Regions from separate parts of the Homo sapiens genome. Here region 2 is linked to region 1. Evidence: fine-mapped expression QTL. A gene starts in region 1. The other region holds a variant in brackets. All regions are shown on one strand. Distances are between the middles of the regions. Region 1 holds the start of IGF2R (insulin like growth factor 2 receptor). Region 2 holds the start of ACAT2 (acetyl-CoA acetyltransferase 2).

Region 1 (10,551 bases):
ACAGTGGAGACCTGGCCGAGTTATTTACATTTCAGCAAACTGATGCCCAGGAACAAAATTAAAATGGAGCTTAACACGTCACACCTTGGTGACACGATAAAATTTTTTGTATCAAATTAAAAAAAAAATCAACTTACATTCCTATTCCTCAACTACATGCTACATTTACGGAAATTTTAGCCAGTTTTATCTCATAAAAGTACAGATGACTGATAACCTCCCCCGCCCCAAGAAAAGTTTTCAAAAAGTATTTAAGGAGAGGTATCAGTTTAAAACAGGAACATAAACCCAGCATGGTGCCTCATGCCTGTAATCCCAACACTTTGGGAGGCTGACGCAGGAAGATTACTTGAGGATAGGAGCTTGAGGCCAGCCTGGGCAACATAGCAAGACGTCATCTCTATTAAAAATTTTAAAAAATATATAATAAGCCAAGTGGGGTGGCACACACCTGTAATCCCAGCTACACAGAAGGGTGAGGTGGAAGGACTGCCTGAGCCCAGGAGTTCACGACTGTAGTGAGCTATGACTGCACCACTGCACTTCTGCCTGGGCAACGCGGTGAGACCCTGCCTCAAAAAATTATAAAACAGGAACAGACAGGAAGTTCACTTGGCACATGTTGGGTTTAAAGTAGAGATTGCAAGTGGTTCTGGAGAAGTCTGCATGTGCAACTACAGGGAAGTAACAGGGAAAGAGGTGGGTGAAAATCCGTCTCTGAAATGATTGGCAGATTTGTCATCCTAAGAAAATCTGGCAGAAAAATTAAACACAACTTTTAAGATATTCTAAGACTACAAAGGGCAGATCTTATTATATTCACAATGCATATCAACCTCAGAAACCTCTTCAGCATTTGCTAAGTATGCCCACGTGTGACAGTGGCCAGAAAAACGTAAAGATACAAAGGCCATTCCTACTAGACCAAGAGGCCGTGTTCCACCTGGAGATGAAGTTCGTGAACACAGGTTCAAGACACTGCCATGACTAACCTAATGCAAAAGTAAGGGTCCCATCAATCAGCCAAAGTATCAGTCTGCCCTTGAAGCCACCTTAATCTTAACTGTGAAGAAAACAAACTTCAATTTGTTAACAAGACCAAGACTTCAACCACACTAGGCCAGCTGGGTTAATTTCTTATTGTATTTATTTATTTATTTTTGAGACAGGGCCTTGCTCTGTCGCCCAGACTAGAGTGCAACTCGACTCGATCACAACTCACTGCAACCTCGACCTGCGGGGCTAACGTTATCCTACCACCTCAGCCTCCCTTAACTGGGAGGACAGGAGTGTGCCACCGCGCCCGGCTCTAATTTTCATATTTTTTGTAGAGACGGGGTTTCGCCATGTTGCTGAAGCTGGCCTCCAACTCCTGGACTCAAGTGACCCGCCCACCTCGGCCTTCCAAAGTGCTGGATTCCGGGCATGAGCCACCGCGCCCAGGCGAGTTAATTTCTTATTTTTGGTCACAGAAGCCATTATTCCAAAATGCCTTCCTCTAAATGTTGTTCTCAGCCTGACCTCGTTTAAGCTGCCACCATTTCTCTGTATCATACTAGTTACTGGAGTAACTATGTATCTTAGGGTAGCTAACTGGTCTTTAAACTAGTGTCACAAACTCTCCCTCCATCCACCCTTCCCCTTCCAAAAAAGGGAGCATAAAAAATATGGGCCTTTCCAAAGAGTTTCTATCGTGAGATCAGCCTCACCCTCCTTAGACTAATTTCTGCATGTTCTGAACACAGGGGTGCTAATAAAACTATCTCTGATGCATGGGAAAAATAAGAACCCCCCCCATAAACCCTACCACAAACTCCAAGTTCAGCCCAAAGTAGGCTCAACTTTGTTTCACTCTGAAAAGTAACTTGTAAAAGTAACTTGTAAAAGTAACAGTAACAGGGAGAAACTGTTGTCTGTTCAAAACTTTTCATCCTGCTTCCTTTTTACCAAAGTTTAAAAAAATAAACAAAAGCTGAATTTTCCATCATCCTAAACAGTCCAGAAAAGGATGGTCAGAAAATTCCTGAAATTCGAAGTTCCCCAGGCCCTGGACTGCTAGCAGTTGCGCGAGGTGAACAGCCCTCGATGGGACTGATGGGTTATACAATCATGGTTCCCAGAGCAAGATCCACTAGAATAATCCGCCCCGGAGACAATGACATCATGTGAGCAACCAGGCAGGAAGTTGGGCTCAGAGAAGTGAAGGGTCAAGTCTTGAAAGCTCACACTGGACGACACCCCCTGCCCCCAATCTAAAGAAGACAAAAGTCACCGCCTGCTAAAAATATATATATATATATATTCTTTAAAGAGAAAATGAGCCCACGGGGGGAAATCAATCAGCAAATGAAACCACAAACACTCAACTCCAGGACCATTCCTGCGGGCTCCAACGCCCCGGTGAGCCTCTCCACACCGAGGGGCCTCACCGGTGCCCCGCTGGCGAAACTCTGATGCAAACGCGCAGCGGGAACAAAGCAAACTGGAGTTCCTGCCTCCAACTTTCCCGGACGCCCGGCCGCGCGAGGGCAGGCGCCGACCCCAAGGGCCGGGGCGACCGCTCCGCACAAAGCCACCCCCGACTCAGCGACAGCCACAAGTGGCCGGACGCGGGGCTCCAGGACCGCCACGACCGCGTGTGCCCCCGCGCCCCCCGCCTGCGCACGGGACCCGGCGGGACTCGCGGACACCACGCAGGCAACTTTCCCTCGGGAACGGGGCGGACCCCGGCGCGGAACGGAGGCGACTTGGAGACCCCAGGAGCTCCTCGAGCGCTCCCCGCCCCCCACGCCGGCCGCTCACCCCGGGCACCGCGAGCGGAGCCTGCGTCCGGGCGGGCCACCCACCTGCACAGCTCGGGGAACGGGGCGGCCTGGGCCTGCGTGGACCCCGGGGCAGCGACGAGCAGCAGCAGCTGCAGCAGGAGCAGAGAGCGCTGCGGGCGGCGGGCGGGCGCGGGCCCCAGGTGGGGGCTCCGGCCGGCGGCGGCCCCCATCGCGCCGGGCCCGGACTGCGCGGCGGGCGCGAGGCTAACGGCGCGCGACTGCTGGGGGCCGCGCCCGGGACGGGGTCGCGCCGCCAGGGCAAAGGCGGAGGTGGAGACGGAGCGGGAGCCCGAGGTGAGCGCGGCTCGACTGGGCTCGGCGACAGCGACAGCGGCAGCGGCGGCCCCGGAACCGCGTCACGTGACAGCCGCCCGGCACCGCCCCCCCACCCCCGCCCCCCGCTCACGTGACTCCCTTGTTCAGGTGACCCCCGCCCGCCCCGGCTCCTCCCAGGCCCGGGTCACGTGAGCGCAGCGCGCGGGACAGGAAGCGGCGCGGGCGGGGCGCAGGCTCCAGGTGCCTCCCGGGGCCTGAGCCTCTCGGCGGGCTGGGCGCGGCGGGGGTGCCTAGCCGGGCCTCAGTTTCCCCTCCCACCGCGCCCTGCTGGATCGTGGCGGGTGCTTCCCAGGTTAGAGCAACTGTTCCCAACCTCGATCGACCAGTAGGGGAAAATAGGGAACTTGGATCAAAGTGCCAGGGAGGTAAATGCCTTCGCACAGCCTAGTGGCAGCGGATCCGTGGGGGGTGGGAACACACTTTAACTGCCCGTGGAGTCAAATCATGGGGGTTTACAACCTTGGCCCGTCAGAGCCTCTCAGACCTTCTGTGGGAATGTTATTTCCCAAGCGTGGGCTTCCTACAGCAAGGAAGGCAGCACAAATCCAGCAAGGTGAAAGAGTGGACAAAAGTGTCGCTGTCAAGCAAGTGCCACTCAACAAAGCTTTATTAATTCACTACGTGGATGGCCATGAGCTAGCCACAATGAAAGTAGAACGATGAATCTAAAAGTCTTGAACTAAAAAAATTCACTTTCTTTTAGAGTAAATATACAAAATAATCATGACTGAAAATAGTAATCATCATCATCATAAAAGCTCATCTTTTTTAGTGCTTATTCCATACCAGACACTGCTAAGCATGTAAGCATGAATCTTTAAAAACCTATGAGATGGGAACCTACTTATAGATGAGGAATTGAGGCACAAGGATACTCAGTGACTTACTCAAAGACACTCTGGGATGTGGCAAAGCTGGAATTCAAACACATATAAATAATCATGACCCAATAATAGCTAACATTTCTTGAGCAAGTAATTATGTACGAAGTACTGAAGTGTTCGGACACTGTGATTTAGCTCATTTAATCCTAACAGTCCTGTAAGAGGGGGTGCCTTTATTGCATCCGTTTTGCAGATAAGGAAAGTGAGGAATGGAGAAATTAAATAACTAGTTAGTCTTGCAGCTAGTAAGTGAAAAAGCCCGGGTTTGAGCCCAAGCCAGTCACAGGCCTGTGACATAACCACCGTGCTATTAATATATTGCCCAAGAAAAGAAAGTGTTGTAGTGGGTCAAAGGGAGAGCTCAGGTGTAAACTGTGGACGTCGAAAAAGGGTTTGTGGTGACCGGGCGCGGTGGCTCGCGACTGTAAACCCAGCACTTTGGGAGGCCAAGGCGGGCGGATCACAAGGTCAGGAGATCGAGACCATCCTGGCTAACACAGTGAAATCCCATCTCTACTAAAAATACAAAAAATTAACCGGGCGTGGTGGCACACGCCTGTAGTCCCAGCTACTCGGGAGGCTGAGGCAGGAGAATCGCTTGAACCCAGGAGGCAGAGGTTGCAGTGAGCAGAGATCGTGCCACTGCACTCCAGCCTGGGAAACAGAGCGAGATTCCATCTCAAAAAAAAAAAAAAAGAAAAAGGGTTTGTGTTTTGCAACTCCAGTGTTATAATGGATACAGGCAAAGACCATCAGTAAATACTAAAACCATCTGGTGAAAAATTATTGTGAAGCGGAATATTCTCTTTGTCTCAAAGTATCACCTTCAAAGTATACTTCCTTAAAAAACACAAAATACCTCTTCACAATGGAAAGATCTGGTAGAACCACCTTAATCAAGTAATTAAAACTAGTATCACCAATTTTTAAAAAACTAGCATTTTCTGCTTTCTAAAGTGATGCAATAAAAAATGCTAAAGGGTAATATTTAAAAGATGGTATAATCATGACTCAGATGTAGAATGAACATGTATCAAAGGTATTCCTTAGCTCATTCATTAATGTGAGAACCGGTAACATGTCACAGCTGGTTCAAAGGAAAATCCAAGGAGAATCCAACAAATATTCAAGCAGTTAGGAATGCTGAAATAAGGTTGTCTATAGATGGAAAATTGGTCAGTAACCATAGGTCAAAAAACAGCTGCGTACGCAATAGACACAATTTGCATTTCTAAAGACAAAAATCGTGTATATTACCATCAGTAGTCTACAATTTACAGAGTTGTAAAATACCTCAAAGACAGTGGCAGACACAAGACCCCATAGAATCAGATAACCCAAAAGACTGTACTAAACAGCTAGCATTCCATTACAGTTGACCACTAATATTTTTGGTCCATTTCAAAGTCTTTCACAGTTATTCCCTACCGTACACACTATCACAAGTAGTCTTGCCAAGAAGTTCAACTTAATCTAATTGAGATAAAACAATCAAATTCAAACTGTGAAACATATGACAAGAAAACTGAACTGGACTATTGCAAAATATTAATGCGCTGAAAAAACAACTCTCCTCCAAAAAAAAAAAGAGAAAAAAAGTGGAAGTGCTACTCTAAATCCATGTAGCAAGCAATAACCTGTGGGTCAAATGTGGTAAGGCAGCTGTTTTGTAAATAAAGTTTTGTGGGAATACGGCCACACCCATGTGTTTATGTATTATCTAGGGCTGCTTTTGCCTGCAATGACACAGTTGAGTCGTTGCAACAGAGACTGTATGACCTGAAAATGCTAACATATTTTACCATATGGCCCTCCGCAGAAAAAGCTTGCCAACCTCTGTTCTAGATCAGTGGTTTTCAAAAGTGCGGTCCTTAGACAAGCAACTTTTGTGTCACCTACCAGCTTGTTAGAAATGCCATTTCATGGGTCCTGCCTCAACCTATTGAATGAAAATCTCTGGAGATGGGCACCAGGAGATTGCTCTAGCAAGCTCTCCAGGAGATTCTCATACACATGGAAGTTTGGCACCGGGAGATTGCTCTAGCAAGCTCTCCAGGAGATTCTCATACACGTGGAAGTTTGGCACCAGGAGATTGCTCTAGCAAGCTCTCCAGGAGATTCTCATAAACGTGGAAGTTTGGCACCAGGAGATTGCTCTAGCAAGCTCTCCAGGAGATTCTCATACACATGGAAGTTTGAGAACCATTGTCCTAAATTAAAGGAGACTAAAAAGGCATGACAAAATGCAATGCGTGATTCTTACTTGGAGCCTAGACCCAAAAATAGGAAGGTATAAGGGACATTTGGAGACCACTGGAAAATTTTTAATGTAAATCCTATATAAGGGACTTTAAAGCAGCAGTCCCCAACCTTTTGGCACCAGGCACCAATTTCGTGGAAGACAATTTTTCCATGGATGGTGGAGGGCTGTTGTGGGGGATGTTTCATCAGGCATCACAAGGACAGTCCACCCTAGACCCCTCTCATGCACAATAGGGTTTGCACCACCACTTATCTGACAGGAGGCGGAGCTCAGCGGTAATGCCCTCGTTCTCCTGCTGTGCGGCCAGGTTCCTAACAGGCCACAGACCAGTACAAGTCCATGGCCCGGAGGGTTGGGGGACTCCTGCTGTAAAGTCAAATACTGCAGGGCATAATTCTCCTGTATTTCATTTAAATTTTCTGAAAAACCTTTGAGGAAGCAGAGACTCACAGATATCAGCCTAAGACCCCCTGTTATAGGCTGAATTGTGTCCCCTAAAAGAATACGTTGAACTCATAACCCCCAGTACTTCAAGTGTGACCTTATTTGAAAATAGGGTCATTCCTTATGGATAAATTATGATGAGGTTATACTAGAGTAGGGTGGGTTCTTAATCCAGTATGACTGGTGTACTTTCAAGAAGTGGGCAAGAAACACACAAGGAGAAGGCAGCCATATGAGAATGGAGGTGCTATGCATCTACAAGCCAAGGAACACCAAGGATTGCCAGCAACACCAGAAGCTGGGACAAAGGCATGGAACAGATTCTCCCCTAGAGCCTTCAGAGGGAGCGTGACCCTGCCAATGCCTTGGTTTTGGACTTCCGGCCTCCAGAACTGTGTGAGACAATTTCTGTCATTTTAAGCCACCCAGAGGTACTTTGTTATGGCAGCCTAAGAACACAAATAGCCAAGAACACAAATGTCCCTCAAATGATAGGACAGATCCAGGCTTGGCATCCAGGTGCTCCAACCACCGCCCTGTTGTGAGGACCCAATCTTCCTGCATCTGACTTTGGAAACACAAGCTCAAATGACAGACCAAGGGCAGAAAGAGCAGCTACTGAGGATGTCCCTGCATGATGTCAAGAGCAATAGCAGGGACAGGTAACACTAATAGCTGCCCCTTTGGAACACAAACCATGAGCTATCAAACTGATGGCATGCACACATTGTTCTGAAACTCAAACAGAATCTCACCCCAAAGATCCAGGAACTTTTTAGAACACCCAGAAAGGAACATGATTCTACCAAAAGACCCTCAAAACACACAGTGATTCATTTTAGGCTTCTTGATTTCTAAGATCATAAACTGCCAAGAAAAAATGTACAGTAAATAATATTGAATCAATGTTAAATTTCATAAGATAAAGCTACTGTGATTACATAGGACGATGTGCTTGTTCTTATGTGATACATGCTGAAAGTGAAGTGTCATGATGTTGGCAACTTTCAAATGATTTCAGGGGAAAAAAAGAATATATGTATGAATAGCAAGCAGAGGTTAAAAATATTAACAGTCACAAATGTAGTGAAGAATATATCAGTGCTCTTGTACTATTCTTTCAACTTTTCTATAGGTTTGACATTTTTCAAAATGAGAATTGGGAAAGAGATCTCATCATGAAAGAGATTGCTTTTGAGTGAATCTGGAAGAATGGGGGAAATTTAGGGAAAGGACATTGTAGGCACAAAGAACAGCAAGTGCAAGGCCATGGTAAAATACAGAAGCTGTATTTGCTGTACAAGGCCTTTTGCTTAAGCAAAAGTCACATGGGAATAAAGAAAAACTACTTTTGGCCAAAAACTGTGCTAGATCCTGGGCTCATAAAATATAATCCCTCCCTCAAGGAGCTCGCAGTTTAGGACGTAGTCAATTTTTATATAAGTTTGAAAATTTTTATTGTGCCCAGCTCCTAGAGGATCTTAAATGGTCATCTAATAAGCTTAGATTTGGCTGGATATGAAGTAGGGAACAATAACAGCAGATACAATAATACATACTGAAGGCTCACTGTCAATACCATTCCTGTATTATATCATTTACTGTTAATACCAATCCCACCAAATAGGTAATTTTATTACCCTCCTTGAAAAGATGAGCAATTCAGTCATAAAGAAATTATATACCTTGCCCAAGGTCATGCAGTTGGTAAGTGACAGCGCTTGGATGTGAGCTGTATGATCTGGGACCAAAGCCCATGCAGTTAACTCATCAACTGCCTCCTCATTGAGAGATTTGGAGAAAGAGAGATGTTCACGGTGACACATCAGGAAAATCCATCTGGTTTTAAGATAGACTGGAAGCTAATTTATTAAAAGTATCACAATTAAGGTGACAAATTCGACAGCAGAAAGCCTTGTGTCCTTCAAAAACACCCAGTTCCCAGTTAGTTAACACCTGGCCAGGTAACTATCAAAGATAATGCCCTAAGGCTTTGGCATGGGAATTTAGAGGGGAATAGGGTTAGAGGCATGAGGCAGGTGTGGTTGGCTGCCTTCCTGCAGGCATCTCATGCCCTTGATTGCTGGCAAAGCCCACCTCCACCAGAGGCTGTGGGTGTGAGATTCTCACTTCCCAGACATTCTTACAGCCAGAGCAAGGGCGTATGACCCAGTCCTGATGATGGAACTCGATGGGAAGTCTCCTGAGATCTTCTGCAAAATGCTTTCTCTCCAATAAAAAGAGTTGCAAAACAGAAATCCCTTCCCCTTTTGTGTTTTTTTGTTGTCTGGATGCAGTAATTTCTATATGAAACTGCTGTCCCCTCATAACTGTGAGGGAAAATGTGGCCAACACAGTGGGAACAAGACGGAAGACATCAGGATCCTGAATGACACTGGTCCACTTCACCAAAACTCTTGTATCCGATCTTTTGTTTTGTGATAGAATAAATAAATATGCCTAAGCCAAGTGCATGTGTTATTAATGTATTGCCTCTCTGCTTTGAATGCATCTTCTAGTATATGCTCTGTGATAAAGGAATCCATTTAAGCAGTTCTCCTTTCAACTAAATGACATTAAGCTTTCTGAGCAGAGGACACTGGAGGCAAACTGCAGAAGAGATTCTCCTGCTGTTCCCAGGACATCCATACCATGAGGTGCTGACCACCTGCTCCCCAACTTGCATACTAGTGCAGGCCAGCTCCAGCCTGGCCAGTCTGCTATCCAATAAATGGAAACAAACCTTTTCCCATGAAATCTGAATGCCTTCAGATCTGAAGGCTTGTCATTCCTTGAGTCCTCTCCGTCAGCCTGAGGGACTATGTAGAGTTTTCTTACATCTTACAGTTACTCCTTCATCATAGTTAGTAATTATTTATATTAAGACTCCCCTGTTTCTACCTCCTGATTGGCCCCAAAATGCCACACCATGATTAGCTAACTTTTGTATTTCTTGCAGCCAAAATCATACCAACTGACCCAATGCAGCACTTAGCAACCTGTTGGGTAGGACAGACAGGAAAGAAAGAGTCAATGATGATCAACGCTTGTAGACAGGTAGATTGGTTCCAGAGAACAGAGAAAACAGAAGAGAAATGAATCTGAGGAGCAAGACGCTAAGTATCTTTTTGTGCAATAGCAAGTCTAGGTATTCAGAGGTGACCACTAGACAACTGGTAATGCAACACTGAACACAGGCAGGAAGCCTGCATTGAATGTAATTATGGGGAGGCACTTGCAAAGATGGGAGAGTTGACTTGGGAGGAAGGTGATGAGAAGGATAACAAGACATTGGCATAGTGAAAGAAATTGCCAGGGAGAGAACAAAAGAGAAAATAGGCTCTTAGTATTAACTGTCTATCAGTGTGTAATAAATTACCCTCAAATCCAGTGGTGTAACACAACAACCATCATTTATTAATTCTCACTAGTGAGAATTAATGGGGTCAGGAATTTAGACAGGGTCCAGTCGGAATGGCTCATTTCTGTTTTAAGACTTCTGGGCCCTCAGCTTTAAGACTTGAAGGATGGAAACTGGTATCATCTGAAAGATTTTCACTTGCACATTTGATGGTTGGTGCTGGCTGTCAGCTGAGACCTTAGCTGGAATGCCTGCATATAGCCTCCACATGTGGCCGGAGTTTCTTCAGCTGTGGTAGCTGGGTTCCAAGTCAAGCAAAAGGAGAGAGAAGGAAGAGTAAGCGAGGTGGAAGCTACATCCTTCTTATGACTCATTCTTGGATCACAGGACACCAATTTTGCCATTGTGATCAGGACAGTCACCAAGCCCTACCCAGCT
Region 2 (10,715 bases), 200 kb after region 1:
GTCCACATCTATTCCTCTATGAAGATTATATTTTCCTTTGTATCTTTAAACATATGTAAAATAGAGCCTTTAAGATCCTCATCTGATAATTCTAGTATTGCAGGGTCTGTTGACTGTTGTGGTTTTTTTCCACCCTGGTTGTAAGCTATATTTTCCTAATTCTTTGTGTATCTAGAAAGTTCTCATTGCATGCTGAACATTATAGTTGCTACATAACTGGACATAGAGATTTTATTATCTTTAGAGAATATATTGAGTTTTGTTTCCACAAGCAGTCAAAATACTGGCAAATCACCTTGATCCTTTTGAGGCTTGTTTTTAAGCTTATTAGTTTGGGTCTAGAGTAGCTTTTACTCTATGGCTTTGGCCCTACCCCTAAACTGTGGTCTTTCTGAGATGTCAATGGAGTGTCCAAGGAGTTCAGTAAGGTTTCCACTCGCTTGTCCAGAACTTTTATCTCCTAGTAATCTATAAAATCTCCAGTTCACCTCTCCTTTGCAGCTCTTTTCTACTAGGCCTTGTAAGCTGTTATCTACAAGCTTAGTATTTGATCAAAGACTTAAGGGGAACCTTTTGCAGATTTCTGGAGCTCTTTTTTTCTTCTCCCCCTTATTCTGCCCCACAAACTCCAGCCATCTCAGAAGCCCCAAATTCTCTGCTTCTTCAGATCACTGAGACCACTGTTTCCAGCTTAGGCTCTGCCTCTCCATAACACAGTTTGGGAAGTGCCCTGGGTAGAGACAGTGACAGTGGGGTTTTCCCTTCTCTCAAGGATCTCAGTCTTACATGAGTATTAGTCAAAACCTGACATACATAAAACAGTGGCTTTATATATTTTCACAAGTTTTATGCTTGTTTATAGTAGGAAATCTAATCTTTGTCAATTACTCCATCATGACCTGAGCCTTTTTTCTTTTCTTTTTTTCTAAAGAAGAGCAATTTATTTTCTTACAGTTCTGGAGGCTGGAAGAGTACCATTCAATCCACAGTACACCTTGGAAAGGGCTCGGGATCTGAATTTTTAATGACCACCTCTAGTTATGGTTGAGGCAGTTGGTCACACAGTGTCTTCCATTGTCTGCCTGTGTTTTTATAGCCTTCTCTGTTGTGGCTGTAAGTCGAGAAGTGGTCAAGATGCCTTGAGCTTCTCATTGCTTCCCATATCCCTAAGCCCTTCCTTCCTTCCTAGCATTCATGCACACAGTTCCCTCTTGGAATCTTGTACTTTTCCCCATTACCTTTTTCACATATTTATGTGTTACATAAAACCAGAGCCATTGCTGCATGCATTTGAGCAAGGTGCTTAACTTCTCAGGGTTTGATTCTTTAACTCTAAAATGTCTATTCTGTTTCTTAAGTTTTACATGTATACTAAAGACAAGAGTGCTTTTGATTTCCCAGTTGCTTTGCCATTAAACTTAGACCACAGGACCCTTCAGCATGAATGACCAATAACCCAATTGTGTAGTACAAAAAGTACAGCTAGGTACCAAAAAAACAACTGGTTTATCTCTGTCACTACCTCTGCCACAGAAGCACTATTTGTGGGCCCTGTTTCTTCATTTGGTAAAATGAGGGGTTGATCCAGAAGAACTCTGAGGTACTTCCCACTTCTAACATTCTCTGATAATCAAGAGTTCACAAAGAAGAGAATACTTACTTCACTTCAGTTAATCAAAGAAGAGATATAAAAATCCTTAAGACAGTCTCTGGCCATAAGGACGAAAGCACCTAAGAAGCAGATTAGTATATGGTCTTTTTAACCTTTTTAAAGCTAATACAGTTTCAGCCATGTCTGCCTTACCTGTAATACCCATATGACAGTTGTGAAATGCATCTGTAAGACCATCACAGAGTATACTGTCAGTCAGTGGCATCTCACCTATCTTTACTCCTGTTCTCAAGTAAGCCAAGTGAGGAGCCTAGAAGTCAGAAATAAAAATGGATTTAGGCTTAGTTGCAATTAGTCTTCTCCCCAGAATACAACTCAAAACTATCTAGTATTTCCTAAGTCTTCATCTAGGCCCCTTTGCAGCCCTTCTCCCCAGTTCTAGGTCCTCAGCCAGGCCAAGGTCTAAAGACCCCTGGAATTAGCAGACTTCATCTTTCCTATTGTTGGGAACGATTACTCTCCTACCTACCCATTTTCAATTCTCCCTCAAACCTACCCATTCTGTGTCCTGTTTCCTTAAGAATTCCATTTATTCTTTCCATCGAGGCAATTAATTATCTGTTAAATGAAGAAATCCTCTAAGGGCTTAAGTAAAGCTAACAATGTGTTACCTATTTCAATGGATGACATAATGTCTACAGTGAGAATAATCAGGCTAACTAAATGATGGGGAGGGATTTCTGAGTAGCGGCCAGTCTTAACTCTCACCAACTCAACAGCAGGTATATTAGAATGGAAAGAGTCATTGATTGGACTTAGAGTCGGAAGAGTTGTATTTGAATGCTGGCTCTGGTCCTCAGTTTCCTTACCTGTAAACTGGGAATGGTATCATCTACCCTATATGGGGCTGTTGTGAACACATGTACAAAAGCACCTGGTAAAGTACTACACAGATGTCAGTATCATCCCATCAAAATCACTCCGATTATTTTTGTTACCTTTAGCCTGCCTCCTCCTGAACCTCAGCAATGGCTGGGCTGAATCAGCTTCTATCTAGGGAATCTGCACCTCAGCCCCTGAGCTGCATCAGTAGGAAGCAGGGGGTATAGTTTTTCTTTCAACCACTATGCCAGTTTGAGGTATGGAACTTGGTGAAACAAATCATGCCTGGCAAACCTACTGGAGAAGGGCACCACTTGGTGGTCCTCTTTTACATGTTCTATACCCTGAAAAGGTCAAAAAGTCTGGTCCCCAGGATCTCCTTGTCATGTGCAGGAAGGTAAGTGGCAACATCTGTTTTTTGCCTTTTACTCACAATGGGAAAGAAATTTAAAACCAAGGACATCAAGCAACTAATATGAATTTAATTCAGAAAATATTACATGCTTCATTAATAGTTTAGAAAAAGTATATTCGGTTCCAATCACACTGGTTGATAAACTTCTTATCAACCCGGATTTCCCACCCAAACTGAAGAATACTTCACATTCAAGTAGGGATCAAGGTTGTCATTTCTGTTTATTTGTTCACTGTTTGGTTCCAGCTCTGCTATGCATCTGTTTACTCTGTTCTGGCATAGACATGAGTTTCTCAGTGTGAGGTCAGTGAAAGCCACCTCATCAGAGAGGCCTTACCTTGCTCATATTTTCCATGCCTCCTGCAACCACAATGCTGGAGTCTCCTATCCCTATTGACTGGACTGCAAGGCACACAGCTTTTAGGCCTGACCCACAGATCATCTGGCAGCTCCATGCTGGAACAGAGTAGGGAATTCCTGCACCCACACTGGCTTGTCTAACAGGATTCTGCCCACAGCCTAGAAAGAGGAACACAGAGGACTCTTAGCAATCAAGGAGAAAGACAAAATGTCACAGTGAAAGTGTGTGGAAAATTGCCAGTTGGGTTACCTGCCACTTCTGAAAGCCTACAGGTCAAGTAAGTGCCCACTGGAGGCAAAAAGGCCTGTATACACTCTCCACCTGTCACAGTCTAGCCCTTGAATATATACTGCCTTGTGCTGCTCTGTAGGTATTTCATAGATATAAGCTTTCTCCTCCATAAATAAGTCATTAATACATTAAGAAAGAAGTGTCATCCTCATCTTTTGATATGGCTTAAATAGTTGGGCGCGGTGGCTCATGCCTGTAATCCCAGCACTTTGGGAGGCCAAGGAGGGCAGATCACCTGAGGTCGGGAGTTTGAGACCAGCCTGACCAACATGGAGAAACTCTGTCTGTACTAAAAATACAAAATTAGCTAGGCGTGGTGGCGCATGAGTGTAATCCTAGTTACTAGGGAGGCTGAGGCAGGAGAATTGCTTGAACCTGGGAAGCGGAGGTTGCGGTGAGCTGAGATCACACCATTACACTCCAGCCTGGGCAACAAGGGCGAAACTCCGTCTCAAAAAAAAAAAAGTGCGGGGGGGTGCTTAAATAAGCATTATCAAACCTATGTCTAATAAACACAGGATATAACCTAGGCATTATCAGTGTTTCTAACTAGGGCCATTTGCTCCCAAGATCATGGCTTAAGACACTTGAGAAGAAAAAGGGTTACTTAAAAAGGAAAACCTTTGATAATAAGCAGTTCTGTTCTTGCTTAGTATTCATTACACTATGCTTAAATGGTTATATAACAAAATATATACAAACTCAGAATTCACAAATACCTTTTTTTCTCATTCTGAGTACTGAAACACAAATATCTTTTCATAATTCAACTATGGGACTTCCTTTAGTTGGGAAGAAATACATAATTTACTTAAAGTAGCACAGAAGAGAATGGAGTTAAAAGTTTCAAATATTCTCAATCGCCATTGTCTGTTATCAGAGTCAATGGTAAATGTTTATAAAGTGGTTACTCTATTCCCAGTTTCAGATATACTCAAACCTACCACCCTTCCTTGGAGAGTTTGTGGGGAAGAACTAGCAAATAAGTCGCTGATAAAAACTTAGAGATTATATTCATCACAATGTTATCAATCTGGGATTAGGCTGGAAACTAAAAACGGGTAAGGTTACTTGAGACTGAAAACATATGCAGGATCATATACATATTAAAAAGACAGGCCCAGTGCGGTGCCTCAGGCTGTGAGCAGTGGCTCACACCTGTAATCCCAGCACTTTGGGAGGCCGGGGGAGGGGGGCGCATTACTTGAGGTCAGGAGTTTGAGACCAGCCTGGACAATATGGTGAAACCCCCCCTCTCTACTAAAAATACAAAAATTAGCTGGGCATGGTGGTGCACGCCTGTAATCCCAGCTACTCAGGAGGTTGAGGCAGGAGAATTGCTTGAACCTGAGACAGAGGTTGCAGTGAGCCGAGATTGTACGGCTGCACTCCACCAGCCTGGGCGACAGAGTGAGACTCCATCTCAAAAAAAAGAAAAAGAAGAAATGAGGTACAGGGCTGGGCATGGTGGCTCATGCCTGTAATCCCAGCACTTTGGGAGGCCGAGGCGGGTGGATAACTTGAGGTCAGAAGTTCGAGACCAGCCTGGCCAACATGTTGAAACCCCATCTCTACTAAAAATACAAAAATTAGCTGGGCACAGTGGCAGGCACCTGTAATCCCAGTCACTTGGGAGGCTGAGGCAGAAGAATCACTGGAACCCGGGAGGCAGAGGTTGCAGTGAGCCAAGATTGCGTCACTGCACTCCAGCCTGGGCAACAGAGTGGGACTCCATCTCAAAAAAAGAAAAAGAAAGAAATGAGGTGCTAACACAATTAATAATGCTAGCATTTAGCATACTACGAGCTTCATGAGAATGAGAATTTCTATCTGATATGAACATTGCTTATCTCCAGCTGCTAAAATAGTGCCTGGCACAAAGTAGGTGCTCAATAAACATTTGTTACATGATTGTAGAAGGTATCTGGCTCAAGGAATAGGACAGATCTAAGTTCAAGTGCTAGCTCCACTTCAAACTGTGACCCTGGTAAGTCATTTAACCTCTTAAACTCTCATTTATTCATTTGTAAAATGAAGATAATAGGATATAACAGACTTGTGAGGAAGATTAAATGAGGTAATGAAAGGAAAGCATTTAGCACAGTGCTTTAAAAGCCTTAAACTTAGTAGACATGCACCGGTAGTCCCAGCTAGCTCAGAAGTTCAAGGGCATGGTGCACCATGATTGTGCCTGTGAACAGCCATTGCACTCACGCCCAGGCAACAGACAGACTCCACTTCTACAAAAAAATTTAAAAAATTAGCCAGGTGTGGTGGCCTGCTCCTGTAATCCCAGCTACTCCAGAGGCTGAGGTGGGAGGATACCGTGGAGCCCAGGAGTTTGAGGTTATAGTGGGCTACGATTGATTACACCACTGCATTCCAGCCTGGACAACAGAGTGAGACCCTGTCTCTTTAAATAATAATAATAATAATTAATTAATTAATTACGAGTGTTCAAACCCAAAGAATCAGAAGATGGGGGCACTCTCAGGACTCAGCTATATTCCTCTGGGGAGTGATATGCCCCATTTGCAAGGGGCATGATGTGGCACCTATTTTCCAAGCTCAGAACTGAGCCCTAAGAGGGCAGGGAACTTACCTGTATTGTTGGAACCATACTCCCAGCACTAAGCACAGTATGGGGCACATAGGAGGAACTGAATACATTTTTGTTGAATGAGTGACACTTTGAGGTAGTAAGGAGGAGCAGGCATACTTTCCTATGCGTCAGGCTGGCCCTGCTGCTGCT[T/G]CTTCTTCTTCTTTTTAAAAGGAGTCTCACTCTGTTGCCCAGGCTGAATGGAGTGCAGTGGCACAATCTCAGCTCACTGCAAGCTCCGCCTCCCGGGTTCACGCCATTCTCCTGTCTCAGCCTCCCAAGTAGCTGGGAATACAGGCGCCCGCCACCACACCCGGCTAATTTTTTGTATTTTTAGTAGAAACGGGGTTTCACCGTGTCAGCCAGGATGGTCTTGATCTCCTGACCTCATGATCCGCCCACCTCGGCCTCCCAGAGTGCTGGGATTACAGGCGTGAGCCACCGGGCCCGGCCGGCCCTGCTTCGTAAGAATGAAAAGGCAGTGGGCCGCCTGTAGTCCCAGCTACTCGGGAGGCTGAGGCAGGAGAATGGCGTGAAACCGGGAGACGGAGCTTGCAGTGAGCCGAGATCACGCCACTGCACTCCAGCCTGGGCCACAGAGAGAGACTCCGTCTCAAAAAAAAAAAAAAAAAAAAAAAAAAAAGGAAAAGAAAAGGCAGTGTAGGTGGTGTAGGTCAGTGGTCTAAGTTCATTCACAAAAAGCATATTAATGAAGCTAAGTCTTTTTGTTTGTTTAGAGAAGGGGTCTCACTCTGTCACCCATGACGGAGTGCAGTGACACAATCACTGCAGTCTCAAACTCCTGGGCTCAAGTGATCCTCCCACCTCAGCCTCTCCAGTAGCTGGGAGGCACAGGCCATCATACCTGGCTATTTTATTTTTTGTAGAGACGGGGTCTTGCTTTGTTGCCCAGGCTAGTCTCAAACTTCTGGACTCAAGTGATCCTTCCTCCTCCGCCTCCCAAAGTGCTGGGATTACAGGCGGGAGCCACCCTGCCTGGCCAAGAAGCTGAGTCTCAAGCTGGATAGAAGCTACTGACAGGGCTGGAAGAAGGGGGCCAACAGGAGGAATCATAACAGAGGGAACTCTGAGCAAAAGCAAGGAGGCAAGAACTTGAGTGAGTGAGAGAGTGTGTGAGTGTGTGAGAGTGTGTGTGTGTGTGTGTGTTTATGGGCTGTTTCTAATAAGCCTGACTTCTCCTGGAATCACTGAGACTTACCTGCTGCCAAGACATGTCCAAAGATGACCTCAGACACATCTTCCGGAGCCACAGTGGCCCTCTTCAAGACTTCTTTGATGACAGTGGAGCCCAGGTCCTGGACAGGAACAGCAGCTAAGGCACCATTGAAGGAACCTACAATAGAAAGGCGGAGAGCGTGGACATCACAAGCCTGCGGGTAATACGGGAACCACCTACGAGCAGGGGAGCCTCATGACCCTGTTTGGCAAGGCCACGCGAGGAGGCAGTGCCCTCTCCTCCCACACGTTCCTACACCTGCTGGTCTGAGCAAAGGTCAAGGTGGGTGCCACAACTCGCAGCAGCCGAGGGCTGGACAGGCGACCTCCAGAACGGCCTAGGGACGCCGCTGTAGCCCTTCTATTTCCCCAAATCCGAAGGACTGGATGCGACCCCATGCTTCCCAAACAAAAGGAACCGGCGGGTCAAGGGCGTTGAAAACCATGCGGCACGAAGGAGACGAAGTCACGACTTCTAGCCATTGTGTGACAGCCCGACCCCAGCCCAAAGCCGGGCTCAGACCACCTAGCAGTTCCGCCCCTGCCGCAGGCATTACCGATGGCGCCTCCCGGAGCCGGCCAATCAGGGGCCCCGGAGGAGAACACCTCCCTACGCCAACCAATGGGAGAGGCAGGCCACGCGATGGCTCTACCCCGGGAGCCAATCCAAGCACGAGGGACGGAGTGCGCACATCGGGAGAGGAGAGGGTGGGGCTGTAGCACCAGGTCAGGGAACGCGGGAGCCGCAGGGTTCCAGGGATCCCGCGGCTCCTCGCGGCTTGGCCTGACCGGCTTCCTCCACATACGCCCCTCTCCTACACAAGTCCGGCCCTCGGCGCTCCTGCCGAAGCAGCAGGCGCCTCGGACTCTGCGCGGCTCCCGCCGGCCACTCACCTATGATGGTCCGCGCCGCCGAGACGATGACCACAGGATCTGAGCCTGCATTCATCTTGCTTCTCCTGCCGCCGTCTGCCCTGCGCTGCCTGCAAGCTAGGCAAAGCTCCTCCTCGCAGCCCACAGGCCTGCCGCGGGCGGGACCTGAGGTAGCCCCGCCCCTCGCCCTCCACCTCCCCGCGCACCACCTCCCCGCGCATCCCACTGTGCGCAGGCGCAAGGCCGGAGCAGGGGCGGGCGGAGGCGCGCGGGGCGCGGGGCGCGGGGCGCGGGGCGGAAGTGAGGCCGGGGCGCGGGGCGCGGGGCGGAAGTGAGGCCGGGGTCTGGGCTTGCGGGCAGAACCGCGGACCTCGGACGCATTTACAGAGCGCCTGAAACCCCAGTGTTTCTGGACACCCCAATGTTGGAGTTCCCCGACTTGACGTCTTGGGCTTTTTTTTAAAAAATCTTAGGGTTTCTCGAAACAGTAAAGACTGGGGGGTGACAAAGACTTATCTCTCGTTCAGCTCAGGACTGGAATCCCACGGGCGAGAATCTCGAGTGCGAGCCCGGCCCGCGGCGGGTCTCAGCACAGCTCTGATGGGTCCTTTTGCTCTCGGCGGCTTCGGGAGGTCCTATGCGTTTCTCCTGGCGCCAGTCATTCGCTCGCGTGAGGGGCTTGCTAGGAGCGTCTCGGTGCGAGCCCCCTGCCTTCTAAGATCAACTCTGGCTGTGAACGGGTGAGGACGCCGGGAGCGTCTTAGCGTCACAAAAGTTCCTTTGGTTGACGTTTGGACAGTGAAAGGAGCATGTAACAAGTGGGGTCAGTTTTGTTTAAAACCCTTTCTGACTTCCCAGCCTCTTACTGGGCAAAGTTCATAATTTTTCTGAGCTTTCTAGGGTTTCCAGGCAAGCTTATGAGGGGCCACCGTTACAGCAACTTGTTGGGAACACCTGGATAGTGGAACAAGAAAGCTTTGTCACAAAGTCATGAAGGGGAAAACTGTTGACGGACCTGGAGAATCTTCCTGAAGAACTTTAAAGTTGATTGAAAGAATCATTAAATCCTGGAAACCTACATTAAGACTTTGCAGAGATATGCGGATGGGTCAGATAAATCAGAGAAGGTAAAGAGTGTAGGCCCCAGAGGTGGGGCAATAGAGAAGGAAAAAAATTGCATAACAGTGCAATTTCAGGAGAAATCTTTAGGGTCTGGAATAGTGGTGAAATCAGCTGTCTACTCTGCTAAGAACTCAGCAGCACACTGAAGTCTCTTCAGTTGTCTTCAATGTGTTTCCTGTCCCCTAACATATCTGAGTCCAAGGAATTCAAGGAATGCCTCCCGTGGCTTTTGCTCTATTCTATCCCATTTTCCCCTTACTCCCTGGCCACTTCTGAGTCTTTGTGGGCTTACTCTCACATCCCCTTAACATGTTCCCCAAGGCTCCTACTTTGCACCAGCTCCCTGGGTAATACCAGTCATTCCTACGGCATCAATCACCACCTGTATACTGACAAGTCTGAAATCCTTACATCTAACCTCGTCTCCTAAGCTGACTGACCCTCTTCATTTAAATTCTTACAAGCACATCAGGTCGGGCACCTTGGCTCACACCTGTAATCCCAGCACTTTGGGAGGCCGAGGAGGGCGGATCATTTGAGGTCAGCAGTTTGACACCAGCCTGGCCAACATGGTGATATCCCGTTTCTACCATAAAATAGAAAAATTAGCCGGGCGTGGTGCCGTGCGCCTGTAATCCCAGCTACTGGGGAGGCTGACATGGGAAAATCGCTTGAACCTAGGAGGCAGAGGTTTCAGTGAGCCGAGATCACACCACTGCACTCCAGCCTGAGCGACAGAGAGAAACTGTCTCAAATAAATAAAATTTCCTATAAGCACATCAAATTTGACATATTGAAACCAAACTCTTCCAGCCTGTTTCTTCTGTAATCTCAGTGAGCAGTGAAACTATCTTCTGTTAACCAAACCAGAAATTTACCTCTGAAACTCCCCCTAAACATCACTTCTTCCAGAAAAACCTTCCAATCTCCTGCATTTGGTGCAGCATCTTACCCCTAACTTCCTCTTTCAACTTACCATGTAATTCCTAGTTTATCTGTCTCCTCTACTGACTACATAAGCTTTCCAAGATGATCCTGTTACACTGCTTTATGCACAGCTCCTAGCACATTATAGGCAGTTATGAATGAACACCAATATTCTTTATGGCCAGTGCCTAGCACATTTGAATGAGTATGAATATATTCTTCTGGAGCCAAGGGATATAGAGTTTCCTGCCTGAAGGCTCTATCTAGAGTAAGTTTAGGAGCCAATCTTGAGAAGGTAATTGCATGCTTCTGCTGAGTGGCCAAACAGAATCTGTCCCCTGAGGAGTCCTCATTATAGCTACTCATATGATTATCTACTCATATGAGACAGACAGAG

What was found. PIP is the estimated chance that this variant, and not a neighbour inherited with it, causes the effect.
Region 2: its variant is fine-mapped to the expression of IGF2R in caudate (GTEx, PIP 0.97).

Annotation. Positions count from the first base shown.
Region 1 is chr6:159,961,691-159,972,241 of GRCh38, reverse strand. It overlaps IGF2R (insulin like growth factor 2 receptor), which reads right to left and starts at 3,160. Exons shown (of 48, transcript NM_000876.4): 1 at 2,847-3,160. The coding sequence starts at 2,995. RefSeq lists silencers at 2,540-2,669, 2,690-2,969, 2,980-3,599.
Region 2 is chr6:159,759,718-159,770,432 of GRCh38, reverse strand. It overlaps ACAT2 (acetyl-CoA acetyltransferase 2), which reads right to left and starts at 8,388. Exons shown (of 9, transcript NM_005891.3): 1 at 8,291-8,388; 2 at 7,380-7,514; 3 at 3,247-3,428; 4 at 1,805-1,922. The coding sequence starts at 8,345. It overlaps SOD2-OT1 (SOD2 overlapping transcript 1), which reads left to right and starts at 8,101. Exons shown (of 2, transcript NR_037166.1): 1 at 8,101-8,439; 2 at 8,797-10,175. It also overlaps a transcript of SOD2 not described here. RefSeq lists enhancers at 6,507-7,007, 9,076-9,135 and silencers at 8,416-8,565, 8,586-8,645. The variant T/G (reference allele first, on the strand shown) is at 6,314.